7 separate regions of the Homo sapiens genome follow, and regions 1, 2, 3, 5, 6 and 7 are each reported to be linked to region 4. Evidence: microRNA targets listed by miRTarBase, many of them from high-throughput screens and not tested one by one. Region 4 holds a microRNA gene; each other region holds the end of a gene's coding sequence.
The links. Region 4 holds the annotated microRNA hsa-miR-335-5p (UCAAGAGCAAUAACGAAAAAUGU, at 1,154-1,176, opposite strand). A microRNA usually pairs through its seed, bases 2 to 8, with sites in the 3' UTR of a target mRNA and lowers its output. Matches are read on the target gene's strand: a 7mer-m8 pairs with bases 2 to 8, a 7mer-A1 pairs with bases 2 to 7 and ends in A, and an 8mer does both.

Region 1 (3,080 bases), not on the chromosome of region 4:
TCGTGATCCGCCCATCTTGGCCTCCCAAAGTGCTGGGATTACAGGCGCGAGCCATTGCGCCCGGCCGGGAAGTTTTATCCTGCATCACTTGCAGGGATATCAGACCCTCCTCCAGCTGTCCTCGTACCAGCTGTGCAGGCTGCTGGAACCGCTGTTGGGACCTACAATCCCTAGAGTGACTGGTAATCACCATGCACAAAGGTGAACTGCAACTGTACGGAGGCAACCGAGCACCACACCCACAGAGCCAGGATCATCCAACCCATTCGCCCAACCCCAACCATCACCTCGTGGCAAAACCACCCAAATTCCTTCCCATCTTCACTCACAATCTTCCCCATGGAGTTCACCCCAACAACGCACCAAATCATATTTTTTTTAAAAAGTAGCTAACATTCCTAAGGCGCAGTGATCCAGGAGGGTCTAGCTCGAGAAGTACCCTAAAGTGCACAGGTGGTCCTGTACCTGCACTACACAGAGTTAATGAAGGCTCCTCCCCTCAAGCGGTCAAGGCAGCACAAGACATCCGTGTGTTAGGGGAGGCATTTTTCTGAGTGATACTCTCACCCAGTTTTGATACACTCCTTACAGCTGTGCTGAGGCTAGGGAAAGAGGTGAAATGGTCATCAACCTCCCCACACAGAGGTGGCAGGAAAAGATGGGAGGGGCAAGATAGAGCAAGAAAGGGGAGATGTTCTCAGGGAACAATGAAGATGAAAAAGTGGCAAGCTCAAGGAGGCAGCCAGAGAGGGACAAGGGAAAAGTCTGCAAGAAAGCTTATCCTCCAGATGGGCTGCCTTTTAATTCTTCCCAATTAGGTAGGTAAATGAGTACAATTACTACAGTTATCCTAAAGTGCTAAAATGTGAAGCTTTGGCTCATGAAGATTTTAATGCCCATATAGGTTCCAAGAAGCATGACCTATCCTGTCTGCACCATATATATATGAAAGGAAGCTAAGGCTGTGCCCAAAACAGCCTTGTGATAGAAATGAGACAAACCAGGAACAATACCCACGATTCAAAGGAACACCATTTTAATATCTGAAAGTAGCATAATGTTCAGCCAATAGGCATTGGTACAACCATACATACTGCTTGTTTACAGCAGGCATCCCTTCTGAGTGGCTGGCATCTGTCCTGTACCAGTTGTTAAAATATTTTGAAAATCATCTCTGTATTAAAATAATTGTGGCCCTATGAGATAGGGAATATGAAATAAATGAAGGATTCCTTTAACATCAAAGGTCTTTAGAGTAAGACTAGAATACATTAGTATATTTTAAAAGTCTAAGGAATGCAAAATTCAATAAAGTGATATAGCCAACCCTTCACCTAAGAAAGAAAAACACATCGGGGAACTTCCCACTGTACAAAGATTTTCCAGGATGGGAAACTAACATGATAGAATTATCTGGGTGCTAATGGGCTTGCTAGTTACATTCTGTGCACAAAGGAAGGAAAGGTTTATAAGCACTGGATCCCAAATACTTTACATTCATTGCAACATAGAAGAGAAGAGAAAAACTATAAATGTAGTTTTAAATTAAATACCAAAACTAATTTCACCACTTACAGTTCATTTCCCAGTGTGACTTTTTGCATCTGAGAGCCAGAATGTTTGTCAACCAAAAGAAATCCATGATGATGAAGAAACCACATGGCTGAAGGTGATTTTGGTCCATTGAACTGATGATCGTTTACTCTAAGGCAGCTAAGGAGACAGTACGTAAGCACTTGGATCTCGCCAGGATGGAATTGGAATGTATCCTCAAGAGACAGCAGCAAGAAGTCGAAGAGTCCCGCAAAATGGCCAATAAAAACATCATATCCTCCTTTCTATTCACAAACAACTATTATCAAATCTTTCCCAGATATCTAGAAAGCAGACACTATGACAAATCTTCAGGCTAGGAAGTTCTTCCTGGTATCTAAACTAATTCCTTCTGTTGCAATCTAAACTCAATCTCTTACTCTATCCTCAATGAAAACCAAGAGACACTGCTCATCCTCACTTACTGTTGATTTTCCCTGGATCCCTTTCCTATCTAAGCGACACAACTCAAATGTCCCTTCTTGGCTCTTGTATCATCCAAGATTCTTGCCAGTTATGCAGGCTGCTGCTAAGGAGTGATGGAGATGCACCCAGGTCAGAGGCATCTTCCTGGCTGTGGTGGCAGGCACTGCCAATGCCCAGATCATGGATCTTCCTGGTAGCTGACCTCCTGACAACCTCTGGGTCTGACCAGCATCCCCCAGGGGAGGTAATCAAACCAAGGCCCAGGGCTGCCTAGGAGCCTGTAGACACTAAGAGCACTGGAGAGCCAGAGAGGATGTCCTCTCTGTTCCCCTCCTACTCCCCACTCTGTCCTTTAGGAAGAGGGACCTCACTGAAGGACTCCTCAGTGGCAGAATGAATCCATATGGCTTGGCAGGCCAGCAGAGAATTTCAGAGAAAACGTCTGGAAAATGGGAAGCTAGGTCTTCAATGGTGGCCGTTCTAAAGAGAAAAAGAAGGAAGAGGAGAAGAACCAACAGGAGGTGGTCTTCTGCTTCCACATTCACATCTGGTGACTGGCTGCTGGTATGGGGATAGCTGGATGCCTTCCAATGCACACCAAGAATAACTGAATGCTTCGGCATGGCTTTGAGATGACCAAGGACAGGGCCAGACTTGGTCTTGCTTCTTCTCTGAGAGACTCGCCATTTTCTCTGTAACCAGAACTTCCCTGAGGCACCACACGGCCCAAATCTTCCATCCCAGCAAAGACTCTTAGTTGAAGAGACTGAATAAAAGTGTTACAATTAGACAAAAAGGGAACATATGATTCATTCCTCCTTTTAACACAATACTTTGAAGATGTCACCACAATTTGGATCTGGCTATATTTTAAGTTCATTTACAAGTAGACTAGTTCTCAACTAAAAATAACCATGTGCGTTATACATTTCGACAGCTGCCTGGATTTTCCTCCGAAGGAAACAAGATTCTATATTTCACTCACATTCAGCAGAGATTCATTTTAACCCATTCGATGAAGACATAAATCACCACTACCACCCACTGGTGGCTGTGACTTT
Region 2 (3,089 bases), not on the chromosome of region 4:
AAAGGGAAGAAGTAGGAGGGCATGACCCCAAACTCTTTCCAGCCACTATTGCCTTGAGTGTACTACCTATGGAGTACAACACCTTCCTTGCCGGGGATTAAACATTCATTTTGGTGCCCAGCCTACGGCAGCAGCTCCACAGCTAGTGGCGATTATAATTAGCATTCTCTCATTTGGGGTTAGATTTCTTTTTTTGTGCCGGTAATGGCAACTTGAAAAGATACTCAAAGAGATTTTAAAAATTTAGTCTGTTAGTCAAACTTACTAGACAATGTTTAATGGAGATTGCGCTTATTGTGATTTTGAAAATTAAAACAACAACAACAACGAGGCTTTCTCTGGTTCCTTTTCATTGTAGAGTTATCCTCCCACATACAATGTGAAGGACATGCTTGTGCCGACTGCAGTCTGGAGCGGGGGTCACGACTGGCTTGCAGATGTCTACGACGTCAATATCTTACTGACTCAGATCACCAACTTGGTGTTCCATGAGAGCATTCCGGAATGGGAGCATCTTGACTTCATTTGGGGCCTGGATGCCCCTTGGAGGCTTTATAATAAAATTATTAATCTAATGAGGAAATATCAGTGAAAGCTGGACTTGAGCTGTGTACCACCAAGTCAATGATTATGTCATGTGAAAATGTGTTTGCTTCATTTCTGTAAAACACTTGTTTTTCTTTCCCAGGTCTTTTGTTTTTTTATATCCAAGAAAATGATAACTTTGAAGATGCCCAGTTCACTCTAGTTTCAATTAGAAACATACTAGCTATTTTTTCTTTAATTAGGGCTGGAATAGGAAGCCAGTGTCTCAACCATAGTATTGTCTCTTTAAGTCTTTTAAATATCACTGATGTGTAAAAAGGTCATTATATCCATTCTGTTTTTAAAATTTAAAATATATTGACTTTTTGCCCTTCATAGGACAAAGTAATATATGTGTTGGAATTTTAAAATTGTGTTGTCATTGGTAAATCTGTCACTGACTTAAGCGAGGTATAAAAGTACGCAGTTTTCATGTCCTTGCCTTAAAGAGCTCTCTAGTCTAACGGTCTTGTAGTTAGAGATCTAAATGACATTTTATCATGTTTTCCTGCAGCAGGTGCATAGTCAAATCCAGAAATATCACAGCTGTGCCAGTAATAAGGATGCTAACAATTAATTTTATCAAACCTAACTGTGACAGCTGTGATTTGACACGTTTTAATTGCTCAGGTTAAATGAAATAGTTTTCCGGCGTCTTCAAAAACAAATTGCACTGATAAAACAAAAACAAAAGTATGTTTTAAATGCTTTGAAGACTGATACACTCAACCATCTATATTCATGAGCTCTCAATTTCATGGCAGGCCATAGTTCTACTTATCTGAGAAGCAAATCCCTGTGGAGACTATACCACTATTTTTTCTGAGATTAATGTACTCTTGGAGCCCGCTACTGTCGTTATTGATCACATCTGTGTGAAGCCAAAGCCCCGTGGTTGCCCATGAGAAGTGTCCTTGTTCATTTTCACCCAAATGAAGTGTGAACGTGATGTTTTCGGATGCAAACTCAGCTCAGGGATTCATTTTGTGTCTTAGTTTTATATGCATCCTTATTTTTAATACACCTGCTTCACGTCCCTATGTTGGGAAGTCCATATTTGTCTGCTTTTCTTGCAGCATCATTTCCTTACAATACTGTCCGGTGGACAAAATGACAATTGATATGTTTTTCTGATATAATTACTTTAGCTGCACTAACAGTACAATGCTTGTTAATGGTTAATATAGGCAGGGCGAATACTACTTTGTAACTTTTAAAGTCTTAAACTTTTCAATAAAATTGAGTGAGACTTATAGGCCCAAAGAATTGTGTGTATGTTTTTTCTCTTTTATTTAACAGTCATCCGGTTCTTCCCTTTCTCTCTTGGCAGTACTTGGAACTCTTCTCAAGGTTAATGTGTTTACTCCGGGAAATGAAGGGCTACCAAGTAACGAGTGATTTTTAAAAATCATTTTTTTGTATGCCACAAGAGGGCACTCTTGGCTTTGCTTGCAAATCTTCCCACGCTCTCTTCCCTCACTACTTTTTCTTTTCTTTTCTTTTCTTTTCTTTTCTTTTCTTTTCTTTTCTTTTCTTTTCTTTATTATTATTATACTTTAAGTTTTAGGGTACATGTGCACAATGTGCAGGTTAGTTACATATGTATACATGTGCCATGCTGGTGTGCTGCACCCATTAACTCGTCATTTAGCATTATCTCCTAAAGCTATCCCTCCTACCTCCCCCCACCCCACAACAGTCCCCAGAGTGTGATGTTCCCCTTCCTGTGTCCATGTGTTCTCATTGTTCAATTCCCACCTATGAGTGAGAATATGCGGTGTTTGGTTTTTTTTTCTTGGGATAGTTTACTGAGATTGATGATTTCCAATTTCATCCACGTCCCTACAAAGGACATGAACTCATCATTTTTTATGGCTGCATAGCATTCCATGGTGTATATGTGCCACATTTTCTTAATCCAGTCTATCATTGTTGGACATTTGGGTTGGTTCCAAGTCTTTGCTATTGTGAATAGTGCCGCAATAAACATACGTGTGCATGTGTCTTTATAGCAGCATGATTTATAGTCCTTTGGGTATATACCCAGTAATGGGATGGCTGGGTCAAATGGTATTTCTAGTTCTAGATCCCTGAGGAATCGCCACACTGACTTCCACAATGGTTGAACTAGTTTACAGTCCCACCAACAGTGTAAAAGTGTTCCTATTTCTCCACATCCTCTCCAGCACCCGTTGTTTCCTGACTTTGTAATGATTTCCATTCTAACTGGTGTGAGATGGTATCTCATTGTGGTTTTGATTTTCATTCCTCTGATGGCCAGTGATGGTGAGCATTTTTTCATGTGTTTTTTGGCTGCATAAATGCCTTCTTTTGAGAAGTGTCTGTTCATGTCCTCACTACTTTTTCTAAGATTTTCTCCAGCATCTACCAGGGAAGGTAGAGAACTTTGTTGCTTTCTGAGCCAGTTGGAATTTGATGGCCAGCCATGGTAGTATTATTTCTGTTCAGGAGTATAATTAATTCTTGCCTAGTGGATAACATCT
Region 3 (3,095 bases), not on the chromosome of region 4:
TTGGGGTTACCTGTCTACATCCTGTGACCTACCTAAAGGAAGCCACAGCACCTGGCCTGGGTTTGTCTTAACTCTGTTGGGGTCTCAGTTATCTCATCTAGATATATAATGGGATGATTGGCTTAGATGATCTCCCAGCCCCAACATCCCAGCCCATCCTATGGGCTTCGTCATTGCTGGGCTGCCTGCACCCATCCCCTTGGCTCCCATATCCTTCACCTTTGACCTTCTGCTCCTCATTCCACCCCATTCCTTAGGAAACTGGCTGACTGTGCTCAGCTGCTGGACGTGGATGACATGGTGCGGTTGGCTGTGCCCGACTCCAAGTGCGTCTACACATACATCCAGGAACTGTACCGCAGCCTTGTGCAGAAAGGACTGGTGAAGACCAAGAAGAAGTGAGGAGGTGACTGGCTCTGTGGGCAGAGATGGGCAGGGTGCCCAGCTCAGCAGCCACGGCCCGGGGGTTCCCTTCTGCTCCATGGAGGCACCAGAGCCAGGGGCTTAGGCAAGGGTGTGTGGCGTTGGTTTTAACTGCATTAAAAGTACTTTTGTAAAATCCTGTCTGGCCCCTCAGTGCTCTCTCCATACTTGGCCCAGGAACCTCTGCACTCTGGGATAATAAACTCTGGCCATAGGGGATTCCTCACCTGCTGAGGTCTCAATAACTGCGCAAGGTGTTTGGGAAAGGACAATGGCCTGGTTCCCACCACTAACCAGCTGTGTGACACATACAGTTAACCTCTCTGGGCCCCAGTTTACAGTCTGAAAGGGGATAATGAGAGTTCCAACCTTATGAAGGTGTTGCAAGAGTTAAACGAGATAATGAAATGGGCAAAAAGCTTTGCCCAGTCCTGCCACTCAAGTGTTCAGTAAGTGGTCGCCAAAAATAAAAAACTTACATTTTGACTCTGGTGGCACTTCTTCTGGTTATCTTCCCCTCTTTTCACACTTCTTCTCAGGTTAGGGGACTCCAGGGCAGGAGCTGGAGAAGATTCTCTAGAAACTAGTGGGATCTGGGTGACTTCCTTGACTCAAATCACCCCATATTCTATCTCTGAAAAGCCAGCAGTATTCCAGGAGCTTACAACAATTGCAACCAGAAAGTTCTTCTTCTGGGTTAAGTTAATCCCTTAACTGAAGTTAATCCCTGGCTGAAGTTTTGGCTTGTTTTTGTTTTTCCATTGCTCATGAGATACAAACCCCTGAGCTGATTACAATTTCCTGCTAACTATCCAGTCTGGCTTTATCAGCCATTTGGGGCATGTGTGCTGATGAAAGCAGCTCATGAAAAATACAGAAAACAAAACACACCCCAGCCATAACCCTGGCTCACCTGCAGGGGTGTGGATTGGCAGAGTGGACCCCAGCAATCCACTGAAGTGCTCTGTGCCTCAATTGCCTCATCTTTAAAATGGGGGTGTTGGCCGGGCATGGTGGCTCACACCTATAATCCCAGCACTTTGGGAGGCTGAGGCGGGTGGATCACCTGAGGTCAGGAGTTCGAGACCAGCCTGGCCAATGTGGTGAAACCCCATCTTTACTAAAAATACAAAAATTAGCCAGGCGTGGTGGCGGGCATCTGTAATCCCAGTTACTCAAGAGACTGAGGCAGGAGAATCGCTTGAACTCAGGAGGCGGAGGTTGCAGTGAGCCGAGATTGCACTGCTGCACTCTAGCCTGGGCGACGGAGTGAGATTCTGTCTTAAATAAATAAATAAATAAATAAATAAATAAATAAATAAAATAAAATGGGGACGTCACCCCTGTGGACCTTCTGAAAGCTCCTCTGTCCAAGGATGGCCTATTTTTCCATGGCCAACATTCCTTATGATGTTTAGGGAACATTCAAGGGAAGCAAGGTCAGAAATTTATGCTTAAATCCCTAGTCCTCTATGGTCCTGATGAAACCACCCCATCCCCTCATCAAAGACTCAGCTGCACTCCAGAATTCATCTCTGACTTTAATGGCTTAAGCAAGAACATGGTTTCCGTGGCTCCCCCTGGACTGAATGCTGGAGGATATATACTTCACAGTCTGAGGCCTGGTCCCAGGAACTGGCAATCTAACAGGATGGCAAGTGGTTTTGAAACATATAGATTTTCAGGATGGAAGTTTGATTCTTCAGATTGTGACTCATCCGTGGAAAATAAATGGTTTAGCACCTAAATCTGTATATTCCCATCAGTGGCTTGGCTGACTCAGTTGTAAATAGGGTACCCTCCATCTGTCTCCCACCCATATGCTCCACTGTCCCCAGGCCCTCAGTGCCTGAGCCCTAGGGGGATTCGAGTTGGCTGCTGGATTCATTTCCTGCAAGCAGGCCTGCAAGGTGACCTGTCTCTCTAAGATGGAGAGCTGGAGAACTGGCCTGTAACTGCAAACTTAAACTCCCTTGGCTCTGGGGAATGTAAAGGGTGTGGGAAGGGTGCACCTGTGGCCAGGTGAACCTGGGAGTGAGTCCATACACAACACACACACTCATAGCTCCCTTCCCTCCACCACACACACACACAAACTAATGACTAACAACCTAAGAAGGGAAAAATGAATGGGGAATGGGCCACAGGGGGCTCTGGCCTCAGTCCATGAGGTGTGTCCGTCCGCTATGCCGAGGATCCAGTGCACAGAGGGTCAGAACATGAGTTAGGAGGGCCGGTCCACTCCGAATCGGAGGGTGAACTCTTCGGCATTCTTTCTGAACAGCTCCGGATTCTGTGTCAGCAGGTCAGCGAGGTCCATCCGCAGGGGCTCCCTGATATTCGGTCTATTCACCAGCACATTGAGGGCCTCCAGGACTGGGGAGAGACAGGCCAGATCAGGATATCAGGGCAGAGGGAAGGGAGTCATGGCTGCCCGTTCCCAATGTCCTGACACTCCACACTCACTCCTTGGGGGAAAGGTTACATCGCTTAGGATTACTCTACGACCAGATCAAACGCCCCGCTCATTCTTGGCTGGTGACACCCAAGGCCTTGACTGATTACATCAGTGGTTTTCAAACAACTACATTCCATGGCTTCAGAGAAGCTCCTCATCACAGGGGCCACTGAGATAAGTGAGGTTTCTGGGTCTTATCCCCATTTCAACAAAA
Region 4 (3,095 bases):
TTGAGCCCCCGCGCCCGGCCGAGATTTTTTAAGACATAGTAGGACGTAGAAGTCTGACTTCATTACCTTGTACCAGTCGTAGCTGGATGTTGGAAAACCGTGTAAAAGCACAACTATCTCTGGACTTCCAACCACACCCACAGAGTCTAGGAAGAAGGAAAGTACAATCAATTATGCCAAATCCCTATAAAAATAACCTCGAAGATGTTAAAATCTAAGTAATCTGATACAAAGAACAAGCAACTGTGACCAAATTGACATTAAAATGACACAATTATTTGTAAAATGTAAGCTTAACTGCGTTAGGTGAGAACAGGCCTTTTCTCCTTTCAATCTGTATATTAAAACATTGTAAAAATCATGCTATGTGAAAATACTTGAAGGCACCTTGTTTACTTTCACCTAGGTGTTTTTAAACAGCATCTCCCCATTTCTCCTTTTGTTCTGTAATATGCAAATTTTTTCAGTGAAAAGTAAATTTTCAGTTAAAAGCATATGATCACAACACATAAACTACAAATTCTTTGTACTTTATCATGAATGGCCTCACAGAAATTCTCTAAGATACAGCAACTATTCCCAAGGAACACCTTTAGCTTATGCTGTTTGCTCAGCACTTTTTATTCAGCAGGAGACCCAATCTAACATCAAAAACATAATAAAACTATTACAAAATCCTGTCAACTATAAAAAGGGCTTAATCAACATAAACATGAACTTTTTTAATGCATATGACAATATGGAAGCATTCAGCATCATCTAAATTAGGTAAACATTTAGACAATATTAACCTTGCTAATAGTATGGGATTAGAACAGGTATATTCATATACTGCCAGTGACATGAAAATTTGGTAATAAGGTTTTCAAAAATAATTTAGAAGCAGTTAAAAATTGTATATACTTTAGCCTAAGAGTTTTGTTCTTGAGAATCTGTGCAAATAAAATCATTCCATTTATACAAGTAGTATAGTTTGAAAATGTAAGGAAAAAATAAACTGTATGGACATGAAGCTTTTACTTCAACATTAGTTTTCTAAAACAGTAAAACTGGAAGTAACCCAAGCCAACATAATAAAAATTGTATACTTACTTAATTGAATATAGCAAATGAGAGGAGGTCAGGAGCAATAATGAAAAACGGTTTATGACAAACATTTTTCGTTATTGCTCTTGACCCCCGCTCAAAACAAATCATTTCCAATCTGTTTCTCAGTTTCTTCACCTATAAAATGAGGTTAATGGCACCTATCTCCAAATGCTGTTGTAAAGATTAAACAATGAAGGCTGAAAACATAACTCAGTGCCTGGCATATGGTAATTACTTGATAAGTAGTGGTCATAATAATCATCATCACTAGCAAATTAATTTATATAATGGTATCAAGACTTAAATCACAGTTACACTACAAATAATCTACAGAAAAAATGAAATCAGGGATGGTAAGGAGAGAGAACCAATGGTGGTTATATCTATTAATATTTTATATATTACCTGACAGGTTGCTCAAAAAAAAAAAAAAACTAATATTGGAATACATATCAAGCTACAAAGAAAACTTATACTAAAAGGTAAGGTCTGCAGGTTGGAATCTCAGTCCCTACCCCCATTCTCCCAGCAGTTTTCTGCGCTTCTCTGCAAGCACACTACACAGAAAGAGAGAGAGATACTCTCCTCCATCATTAAGGAGCAACAAGAGACCAATAGCCACAAAATAAATACCTCAGCTGGGACTTATGTGACCGATACACGCAGGACTTCCAATAGTCCACTTCTTACCTTGGTAGAAGATACGCAGTCCCTTGTAAGTGAAAAACTTGCCTGAAGACTTCCATGAGTGAAGGGCAGGGGAGAGCTGAGGGGGTGGGATGTGCAGGTACGCAGCAAGCAGGGGCACGGCCAGCAGCCCCACCTGGACCCACCACTCCCTCATCCTGTAGGAAAAGCAGAGACCCACTGTAAGCAGTCAGGTAACATTGTCCACTCATCTACAAACCAAAACCTGGTAAGATGGGGTGGGAGATTGCTGTTACCATGCAATGATTACATTGCCCTTCACATAGGCACAAAGCTGACCGAGACTATAATCAAACCTCTGTCTGCCATAGCACTCACCATATTTGTTCATCATTCTAATCTTAAGGAAAAAAAATACATTATTTCAACATATAATCTTCTGCCTCTGCTCCCCGACTTTAACCCCTTAGCCCCTACCCTTGTGGTCTTCCCAATACCTGCTGAAGAGGACTTTATATAAATAAAAGGGACATGACTTAAATGCTGGACACTCTTTCGTTGACTTTTATCAAGGCTTCCCAGGAAAAAAATAACTTCTTTCTTATTTACTCCAAAAGCTCTACCATCTACCCACTACCCCCAACCAGTAAAATGTTCAAAAAATATATATGTGCTATATCTCATGTTTTAAAGAGTGTGTGTGTGTAGTAACTTATCACATGTCCTCAAGCAGAGAGCTACTCCTGATTTTCAGCCCTCCTGCCTAAATGAAGCCCCATTTAGTACTCCTTTCTGGATTTGGGCTGAGAAACTGCTCAGGGTAAACAGTCTGTGAAAGTAAGATAGCTGCACTGTGTATTCCAACATAAGCAGCTTTGTCATGACCCTGAATATCTAATCTCTTGAGAGGTCAAGGCGGTAGATTACATTTCTGCTTTTCTTAGCAGACTCTTTAAGTTTCCATTTAATTTCCTAAGATGCTCCCCCACCCCCAGATAAGGCATAACTCATACCCAGCGTGTGAGAATTGATTTTGTCTTTGGAAAAAGAGCACTGGTTGGTACACCCAACCCTCCCATGCCCAGGACTTCAAAGGCACAAGTCAGTTTATCCACATTGACAAGGAGTGCCAAACAGGAATTATAAACCGTTCTGTTTCAAGTCTATGACTTCTGATGGTCAACAGATCAAGAATTGTCAGTAGAATGGAAGTTCTCTCAAAACAGCCAGAATGGAAATAATACCCTCCAAAACTAAAATTAGAGTTGTCATAGAGCTGAAATAAATTAATTGCTAAAGCCCTGGGGGAAATGGCTTTCCGTCTGTACACACATTCTTCCCTATTGCCTGTAATCTAC
Region 5 (3,000 bases), not on the chromosome of region 4:
TGACCCTCAAGACCGGAGGTGACTCTCCCTCCAAACCCTTTGCCCCAAATCCCCATGGTCCCACCAGGTCCCAGCTCCCAGCCCCAGCCCCAGCCCCGGCCCCGGCCCCCCTTCAGCAGCTGTCCCCTGGGGTGTGCATCTTCACCTTCTTCTCCTTCTGCAGATGGACCAACCCAGACGGGACCACCTCCAAGTAAGCCTCCCCACGAATTCAGCCTCTTCCTTCCAAGGGACCAGGGCGCTGCTGTCCTCTCAATGCTGGCATTTGATTTGTCTCACCAAGGCCAGCTACATTCCCTTGTGGAAGGAATGTTAAGCCCCTTCCCCACCCTTTATCCCCCTAGGATCTTTGGTTTCGTGGCCAAGAAGCCGGGAAGCCCCTGGGAGAATGTGTGTCACCTCTTTGCAGAGCTTGACCCAGATCAGCCTGCTGGCGCCATTGTCACCTTCATCACCAAAGTTCTACTGGGCCAGAGAAAATGAAGGAAGGCCACAAGCTCAGAGCCCACATCAACACTGCCCCCCTCCCAGCACCCCACAGCCCTCACATCCCCTGGCCTGGACCCAGGAGACCCAGGAGAAAGCACCCTCCCTTAGGAATGAGGAGTGGGCATCAGGCCTGGGACACTGCTCTCCTTCCCCGCCCCCAGCCTGCTAAGTTAAGTGGACAGGCCCACAAGATGACCTTGCATGTGAGCAGATGGCAGAGATGGGTGTGTGAGGGGTGAGGAGGCATCAGCAGTTGAGCCCCGAAGGAGATCAGGCAGCCCCACCTGCAGGAGAACGTCAGCCCTCCAGGGGATCAGCCCCTGCCAGTTCCACCCAGCTGCAGGTGCCAGCACGGCAGGGATGGGAGAGGGGTGGGGAGCGAGTCACTGCCTCCTCTGAGCAGAGATTCAGAGTAGGATCACATGAATAGGGGAAAAAAGAGAGTCTATTTTTGTCTAATAATAAAGAATTTCTATAAACTTTAGCCGAAATTGGAGTCAACACTTATTCACAGGAAGGTCAAAGCCTCATCTCCCAGGGGACGTATCTGTGCTCAGGCCTGTAGCCAGGCCCATGGAACATATGATTCCCATCCCTGGCCCAACATTGGTCCACATCTCCCCATGAGCAAGCTGCCTTCGGCTGCCCCCATCCAGCAGTCCTGTTCCTAGCCCAGTGGACTAGAAAGGCTCCTGGTTCCGGCCATACTGATAAATACGGAAACTCCATCTTTATCGGCTGTATAAACATCTCTGGTCTGTACATACATTTCATACATCGTAGGGTGGGAAGCGAGGGCCAAAGGGAGGCCCAGCAGCACAACAGCTCACCCGCTTTCCCTACAGCCCTACCCGCTCTGTGCAAACCAAGGCCAACAGCTCCTGCTGCCTCTTCCTCCCTGGAAAAGTCACTGTTACGGGGAGGGGGCCAGGGGTTGAAGGATTAGAAGGAGATAGAGGGCTTGGTGGGGAGGACACATGTAAGTGCTAGAATCAAACACTGAAGCGAAACAGGCAACTGGCACAAGCAGCAAGCTGAGGCATGGGACGGGGCAGGAAAAGGGGAGGGAGGGGCCACGCTGCCCCTCTGGGCTTGCTCAGCTAAGGCTCTGGGGTCTTGCCCTCACGCTGGCAGGGAGACAGGCCCCAGAGCCTCAGCCCCAATACCCGGGAGCTAGGGACATGGGTGGCACTGGTAAAGAAAGGATGGAAGGGGAGAAAGGAGTGAAGGCCCTAGTGCCCTGTCACCTCACAGCCCCTCTCTCTTAAACATGCAACAGGCACCCACCCATGTGGGTCCAGGTATGGGGAGCCAGAGACCTAGATCCTCTGTGGTGCCTGAGCAGGTTGGGGTGGGGAGCCAGCTCTCAAGGGAAAGATGGAGAGCCTAGAGGAGTCTTCCTGGGGCAGCAGCCAGTGAAAGGACAGAGATGACCAAAGAGAGGTCCCCTGGCCCTGCCAGGGGTATGACAGCAGCAACTGGTTCACACAACCAGGAAAGAAAACAAGAAAGAGGAATTCAAGGAGAAATACCATGGTGAGTAGGGGAGGGGGCTGTCTACTCTACCCTCTACAAAGCATCATGCCCGAATAGCAGCTGAGATAGGGTGCTCACGCCTCTCCACCCACACAGGGCCGGTGAGGGAAAGGGGGACCCAGAAGCCCACTGACCAAAGCGAGTGGGACCACCCACATACCAACACCATTCTTTGGGTCCATTCCTGTCCAACCAGGGACTCAGGCCCAGGGACTGACAACAGTGGCAGCACCAGGTCAGAAACGTGGGCACAGAGAAGCGTGACAGGGGCCTGAGCCAGTGGGGGCAGAGTGACTACACACCTCCAGGGGCCTGCTGGGTAAACGAAGCCTCTGGGAAGTCAGGAACTGGGTGCCTGGCCCAGCAGAGGGTGAGCAGGGAGAAGGAGCAGGTCTGGAGGGGAGGCCCTAGCCACTCAAGGGGTGCAGATCTACTTTGACTTTCTCCCCGCAGCTCAGCATTCCAATGGTGGGGAAGAAGCCTCCAGAAGGAACAACAGCATCCTTCTTCCCAATGATCTTGCCATTCCGAGTGAAGAAAACCTGGGGAGGAGGTGGGGAGAAGAATGGAGCAAGCAGGCTGTGGCCTCTTCCCTGAGGATGCTGGAGCTCCACAGGCCTGAACCCCAATCACCCCAGCTTCCAGCGGGGCTGGAGAGGGGCAGTTAAGGTGTTATGGGAAGTGACCACCAGAGGGCGTGCTGAGGCCGGAAAACAGCCTCCCAAGACCGTCTCCCGATCTCAGCAACCCCTGGAGCTGGGAACAGCCCTTGGGCAACGCCAGAGCTTCCCGTCTTTCCCACCCTGGTTGTGAGTTCTGTTCCCCACTAATACCCACCCTTTGCCCAGACCCAAAAACCCTGGTCCCACCTCAAACTCTCCGTACTCACCACCACCTTCCTGCCCTCATGCTCCGGCTCTATCTCTTCCCCATCCTCTTCCTCTTCCTCTTCCTCCTCTTCCTCTTCCCCTTCCT
Region 6 (3,095 bases), not on the chromosome of region 4:
GATGAAGTCTCCTCTGTCGCCCAGGCTGGAGTGCAGTGGCCCAATCTCAGCTCACTGCAAGCTCCACCTCCCAGGTTTACACCATTCTCCTGCCTCAGCCTCCCGAGTAGCTGGGACTACAGGCGCCCGCCACCACGCCCGGCTAATTTTTTGTATTTTTAATAGAGACGGGGTTTCACCGTGTTAGCCAGGGTGGTCTCTATCTCCTGACGTCGTGATCTGCCCACCTCGGCCTCCCAAAGTGCTGGGACTACAGGCGTGAGCCACTGCGCCTGGCCTTTTCACCTTATTCTTTAATGTCTTTGCTTCCCCTGCCCTCCTCCAGGTGATGCAGTTTGGACGGATTGATGGCAGTGCGTACATTCTAGACTTCCAGTATCCGTTCTCAGCCGTGCAGGCCTTTGCAGTTGCCCTGGCCAACGTGACTCAGCGCCTCAAATGAAGAGACTGGTGTGGGGAGGAGAGAGATGCAGAGAGCCTTTGGAAGAGGTCTTCGGAGATGCCAGAGGAGCCCTCTAGGGGTCCGATGCCTGGGAGGACCAGAAGCCAACAGCAAAACTGGAAAAGCCCGGCAGGCCCAGGAGAGGGCGCTGACCTGTGGTCGTCATTTATTTGGTTGGGTTTTATTACCTTTTATTGTCTGTTCTTCTTTTCTTCTTTCATTTCAGTGGCATTTGGAAGCAAAGAGTGCTAGGCACCTGCTGTTCTTTCAGGAAACAGCTTGGCTGTGGTAATGCTCTACTGGGCCCTTCAGAATGAAGACAGTCTGCCTTAGAGCCTGCTATTCTTTTAGACATAGGGAGGATGCATTATCCTGTATTCTCCTCCAACATCACCACTAGCGTAAAAGCAAAAAGCTTTTACAAAACACAGCCAAAAATTCTCAAGATGCAGGTTCTTGGGGAATGGGATGGGGACAGCATTTGATTTACACTGATTATGTTACTCCCCAAAAGGTGACTTAATTAATAAAGGGCATTTGGGCAGACACACTGTGTTGGACCAACAAAGTAGGCTCTTTACAGGGGTGTTCTCACCAGGTAGAAATGCGATTTGCTCACTGAGGATGTTGGGGAAGGGACGAAGGGTAAAGAAGAAACTGCACGTATACACAGGTTCACATCACTCTGCAGACAGCAATGTGACTCAGCGTGTGACTTGTAGCAGCAGTACGAGGGCTACACTCCTCTGCTGAGGATGTCTACATTGAAAGCCTCCACTAGTTTCATCGTTTGTCAAAGTTCCGTAGGATCAGTGATGGTCATTCAGCATGACTGGTTCTGGGAGAAGGTGAGAGACAAAAATGGAAAGATCCTGGCCTGTGGTAGTGGTAGCAGTTTTCTCAAATAATGTGGTGACAGTCACTAGATCCTCACATGCTGAGAAACAGCCTCTACTCTCTCTGCCCCTTTTACTTTTTAATCTGGAATGCATTACTGTAAACATGATCTTTCCCATGAGATACCATGTTCTATGCCTTCCCATTCTAAAAGTGTGGACAACGCTTGATTTGAAACCACTCCTTTTCTCCTCTTGGCTACATTAAAATTCAGTTGACTACAAATGCTTTCTATCAAATTAGAAATGTAACCAAAAAAATGTTAAGTGTTCACCAGGGTATTAAAATACAGAGGAGTATGGTCAAATCTTTGACAAAATTTTCATGATCTTCTCTAACAAAAAAAGTTGTTTATTAACTGTACAGACTGTTTACTAAGGAGCTAAACCACTGAGAAAACGTTATTAAAATTGTAATACCTAGGTAGTTGGTTGATCACAGTTTGTTAATTGTATAAAAAAAAATTACCTAGAATATCTCTTCCCACTTCCTCGTCCTCGTGAGAACCTGTGGGCAGTATTCAAGCCCTGATGACAAAACCCAGTGTTTTTTGTTGTTGTTTTTTGTTGTTGTTTTTTGTTTTTGTTTTTGTTTTTCTCAGTCTTACCTGTGATGTTGTTTAGGATCAGGCCCCTCTCCTGGGCCTGCTGTGCAGGAGCACAGGAACTATCTGCTGGCGTTGGGTTCCAAATTTGCATTTTATTTGGAAACAGACAAGTAGAAGATGCTACAGAAAAGTATTTTCAAATTTAAACGTTTTTTAATCCCCTGTTTTAGTTAAAAAATTGGAAAAGAAACCGACCCATTTTTTTCCCAGATCAAGATGACATGACATCACTCCCAATTCTCTCCAAACCCCAGAGAAATACTGACGAAGTTTTCTGATGTGGCAAAGGATATTTCCCATCTAATACCAGTTTCTCATTTATATTTAACGTATTGGACCTGATATTTTTAGTGGGTGCATTCTTCCAGAAAGAATTCAGCAATGTTATCAGAATTAATTCTTTTATATGAGTTTATGTAGCTTGATATGGTGTTTCAGTGCTTATTGGTTGTGCAATAATGGTTATAGCCTGTTAGATAATCTAAATGCAATTCCCCTGTTTTGTCGTTTAGGAGATAATTATTTATCTTGCTTTTCATAGTGTTCTTAGGAATTATTTTGTTGTTACGTTTTGGTGAGTTATACCCATTTTATTTATTTAGAAAAATAGTATCTTTGTTAACGACTTACATGGTCACAGTATATTTTGCTGCAAGAAATAAAGAGGATATGATAGAAGGTTTTTTTTTTTTTTTTTTTTTTTTTTTGAGACGGAGTCCCACTCTTGTCGCCCAACTAGAGTGTAGTGGCACAATCTCGGCTCCCCACAACCTCTGACTCCAGGGTTCAGGTGATTATTTTGCCTCAGCCTCCCAAGCAGCTGGGATTATAGACACCCGCCAACACGCCAGGCTAATGTTTTTGTATTTTTAATAGAGATGGGGTTTTGCCATGTTGGCCAGGCTGGTCTTGAACTCCTGACCTCAGGTGATCCGCCCGCCTCGGCCTCCCAAAGTGCTGGGATTACAGACGTGAGCCACCACTCCCGGCCCATAGAAGGTTTTTTGCTGGATAATTTGTAACTTTTCTAATTGGGAAAAAATTCCTATTAATCACTTAAAAATTTTTTTTTGTATTTTGTGTTATTGATTATATACAAAGGAGACTTTTTTTTTGAGATAACACTCAAATAGTATTCTCTTCTTTTGA
Region 7 (3,095 bases), not on the chromosome of region 4:
TTGTGGGGGCGGGTGCAGGCGGGCAGCTCGGGGAGCCCCAGCCTGTGACAGCCGTCCTCACTGACCCCGCAGTTCATCACGGATGGCTACGCGGCCCACCTGGCGCAGCTGAAGTACAGCCACCGGGCGCGGCCCGCTCGCAACACGGCCACCCGCATGGCGCTGCGCAAGGGCAGCTTCGGCCTGCCCGGCCAGGGCGACTTTCTGCGCTCCCGGAACCACCTGCTTCGCACCATCTCGGCCCAGCCCAGCGGGCCCAGCCACCGGCACGAGCGGACACAGAGCCAGGCGGATGGCGAGCAGCGGGGCCAGCGCAGCATGAGTGTGGCGGCCGGCTGCTGGGGCCGCGCCATGACTGGCCGCCTGGAGCCGGGGGCAGCCGCGGGCCCCAAGTAGGGCACCGTGAGTGCAGCGCGGGGTCTCCATGGTGCTAGGCCAGGGTGGCCAGCCCCGCCAGGAGGCCTGGCCTGGGCACACGCACTGACGTGGGCCTGGGAGATTGTCCCAGGGCCTTGTGGAGGACACGGGCCGCACCACACAGTGCTCCCTGCCCTGCCTCACGTCCTCGGGCCTGACGGGTCCGGCTTGTCATGGAAGCTGGCAGGGACCACCAGCCCCAGGATGGCAGAGGGACCAGAACCTCCCACTCAGACTGGCCCGGGAGGTTCTCCCAGACATTTTGCCCTGTGTGGATCTCCAAGTGTCCTGGTGCCAGGTGTGGGCCCAGGCGCAGCCTGCCACCTCCCCATCCACTGGCCACCCTCACTCCCAGGTCCCCTCCCATTTGGTAGCAGCTCCAACAGGGGTCCAGCCTGCATCTTGTTAACTCGAGTTTCTCAACTGTTCAACCTCACTGGTTTTGCACTGATTTTTGAGAGCGGAGACCCATTACCACCTCCTATGGCTACAGCCCCGTTGACATGCATGAAACTCAGTACCTGCTGACCCAGGACCTACAACCACACTGAAGGCTCCAGTGCGGCAGAGCCTCGTGCAAGCAGGAGAGAAAGGCTGTATCTTAATTTCTGCACCCCGGACCCTGCCCACCTGTCTGCCTGCCCCGCCTGGAGCCCAGGCCAGTGTTGTTTCCAGCCTCAGGCCACGGGCTGGACGGGCCTGGCCGCCTCTTCCGCTCCCTGCCATCAGTCAAGGCCGCCCGCCCACGTTTCTACGCCTTTCTACTTCTCAATCTGATTTCTATGAGGTTTTTTTAAACGAGCAATCCTTGGCTGCTTCCTTTTCTTAACTCTTTCAGTACTGAGAGCAGCCCCTCCACACTGAAAACACCCAGCACTGTGACGGAGTCCAGCCTGGTTCTGGGTCCCGTGGGCCCTGCTCCTGCCCACTTAGCGAGGCATGGGCTCCTTGCCTCACCTGGCCCCGGCAATCCCACTGAATTTCTACTCTGGGGTGGGTGGGGCACACACTTCGGTTTTTTTAATGCCAATTCCGTTTTCATGCCGAATCTAAGAAGCCACAACTTGCTTTGTCAGCTTCAGGGCAGGCAGCCATGACTTCATTTCTCGCCTGAACAAGGACCATGCTGTCCTGCACGCTGGGTCTGACCGTCTGCCCTCTCTCCCCAGCACCAAGCGTGACCTTGGCTGTGGCGCTCAACGGCCAGCTCCGGCGGCCCCTCTGCTGCTCCTCGGCTTTCCCGGAAGTGGGAGAGCCTGCCTGGCCTCGGCCTTTGTCCAGCGACCAGGCTCTGTCCCCGAGAAGCTACGGCCGACCTGGGTCTGGTGTTGGGACGCATGGACCGGGCTGGGGAGGTGCACAGAGTGATGTTAACTTTTTCCCGTGTGTAGATATGTACAGCCAAAGGGTCGTGTAAATGTTCTGCAAAAGTGGGTCTATACAGAGTGAAAGCTATTTATTTTGTGCAGAGAAAAAAGTCTGGAGGGATGGAACCTTCAGGGTTTATTCATATTTAAGATGTAGCTTTTTGTTGTTTCAGGCATTATGTATAAAGCAACGATTATTTTATGGACCAAGTTTTCATGTAACTGTTGCAGTGAAAGTGCAATATCTGACCCCCCTGCTCCCAGCAGGAAGTTGCTTGGCCCGACAATCACAGCCCCTGTCAGGGGCCCTGTGGCCAGTGCCTCCTCCTCTCTTGGCCCCACCTTATCCTGTCTTGCCTGCTGCCTGGGAGACCAGCCATCCAGAGAAGCACCTGGAAGAGTCTCGGGCCCTCCTGCAATAAAGGCCGGGAGGCCCTGTGGGCAGTGGGCTCAGCCTCTCCCCAGGGGGGCAGCTCCCCCACGGCTCCTCACTCCCCGCCTGCCTGCCCAGCCGCCAGCCATGCCAAGGACAACAGCAATAGTCCCCTGGGGCTCTCCCAGCGGCCCTCAGCCATAGATGGCAAGGTGGGCAGCCTGCCCCCCCATGGGAAGTCTCTTCTGTATCCAGGTCTGCTTTCCACCTCCCTTCAGATTCCTTTTGGCACATTCTCCTCTTGAGGAAGTACCAGTCTTTCTGAAACTAAGAGAGGGAGGGCAGCGTCCTTTAAAAATACCAAAAATGTTTACAGAGTTGGGTGCTGAGCTGCAGGGCTCAGGCCTGACCAGTCATAACCAAAGGGTGAGGCAGGCCTTGCTGACTGCCACCCCCCAGGCCTGTTAGAATAGAAGCCTTAGTCCCACTCCCACCACACCCCCACGCCCCACCACCTGCCTTCTCTTTGATTTCTAAAGAGGGATTCAGCAGAGACCCCCCACCCCTCCCTGGCTCGGTCTGAGTCCCACTGCCCACCCCATCACAGCCTTCACGTCTCAGCCCCTCCCGTCTGGTCTGTCCGTGTGCCGTCTGTTTCTCTGGGCCATGTGTGAGCAGTGTCCCCATCTCCCCATCCGTCCCTGCTGTCCCCGCATCATTGGGCCTGAGTGTGCTCTGTATACAACGTCATGTCTGTTACACCAATTAAAGAAGCGGGAAGGCTTCCTTCTGGATCTCTTTACTGCAGTGGCGACCGTGGGGCATGGTGGGATGGGGGCATGGAACAGTAATGCTAGTGACACTCACAGTGACGCCAACACGTGAGTGCGGGGCTGACTCTAGGCCTAGCCTGCTTCTAGCTCCTTCCTGGGATGGAA

Region 1: miRTarBase lists SLC4A8 as a target of hsa-miR-335-5p. Seed matches in the 3' UTR shown: 7mer-A1 at 1,771-1,777.
Region 2: the mRNA of LIPA is a reported target of hsa-miR-335-5p. The part of its 3' UTR that is shown has no 7-base or 8-base seed match.
Region 3: miRTarBase lists SMTNL1 as a target of hsa-miR-335-5p. The part of its 3' UTR that is shown has no 7-base or 8-base seed match.
Region 5: the mRNA of TNS2 is a reported target of hsa-miR-335-5p. The part of its 3' UTR that is shown has no 7-base or 8-base seed match.
Region 6: miRTarBase lists TULP4 as a target of hsa-miR-335-5p. The part of its 3' UTR that is shown has no 7-base or 8-base seed match.
Region 7: the mRNA of PITPNM2 is a reported target of hsa-miR-335-5p. Seed matches in the 3' UTR shown: 7mer-A1 at 2,456-2,462.

Annotation. Positions count from the first base shown.
Region 1 is chr12:51,507,131-51,510,210 of GRCh38, reverse strand. SLC4A8 (solute carrier family 4 member 8) reads right to left here. Exons shown (of 25, transcript NM_001039960.3): 25 at 1-2,785. The coding sequence ends at 2,773. Among named protein-coding and RNA genes, the nearest start is that of SCN8A, 83 kb to the left of the region's middle.
Region 2 is chr10:89,212,331-89,215,419 of GRCh38, reverse strand. It overlaps LIPA (lipase A, lysosomal acid type), which reads left to right. Exons shown (of 10, transcript NM_000235.4): 10 at 359-1,848. The coding sequence ends at 592. Among named protein-coding and RNA genes, the nearest start is that of CH25H, 6.6 kb to the right of the region's middle.
Region 3 is chr11:57,549,711-57,552,805 of GRCh38, forward strand. It overlaps SMTNL1 (smoothelin like 1), which reads left to right. Exons shown (of 8, transcript NM_001105565.3): 8 at 258-562. The coding sequence ends at 402. It overlaps UBE2L6 (ubiquitin conjugating enzyme E2 L6), which reads right to left. Exons shown (of 4, transcript NM_004223.5): 4 at 1,952-2,799. The coding sequence ends at 2,648. Among named protein-coding and RNA genes, the nearest start is that of SMTNL1, 14 kb to the left of the region's middle.
Region 4 is chr7:130,494,207-130,497,301 of GRCh38, reverse strand. MIR335 (microRNA 335) reads right to left here and starts at 1,191; the gene lies at 1,098-1,191. It overlaps MEST (mesoderm specific transcript), which reads right to left. Exons shown (of 12, transcript NM_002402.4): 2 at 1,780-1,934; 3 at 67-146.
Region 5 is chr12:53,063,400-53,066,399 of GRCh38, forward strand. It overlaps TNS2 (tensin 2), which reads left to right. Exons shown (of 29, transcript NM_170754.4): 27 at 1-18; 28 at 164-193; 29 at 345-980. The coding sequence ends at 483. SPRYD3 (SPRY domain containing 3) reads right to left here. Exons shown (of 11, transcript NM_032840.3): 10 at 2,915-3,000; 11 at 917-2,567. The coding sequence ends at 2,433. Among named protein-coding and RNA genes, the nearest start is that of MIR6757, 8.0 kb to the left of the region's middle. RefSeq lists an enhancer at 2,540-3,000.
Region 6 is chr6:158,506,253-158,509,347 of GRCh38, forward strand. TULP4 (TUB like protein 4) reads left to right here. Exons shown (of 14, transcript NM_020245.5): 14 at 326-3,095. The coding sequence ends at 442. Among named protein-coding and RNA genes, the nearest start is that of TMEM181, 52 kb to the right of the region's middle. RefSeq lists an enhancer at 233-733.
Region 7 is chr12:122,983,328-122,986,422 of GRCh38, reverse strand. PITPNM2 (phosphatidylinositol transfer protein membrane associated 2) reads left to right here. Exons shown (of 26, transcript NM_020845.3): 26 at 73-2,943. The coding sequence ends at 396. Among named protein-coding and RNA genes, the nearest start is that of ARL6IP4, 4.2 kb to the right of the region's middle.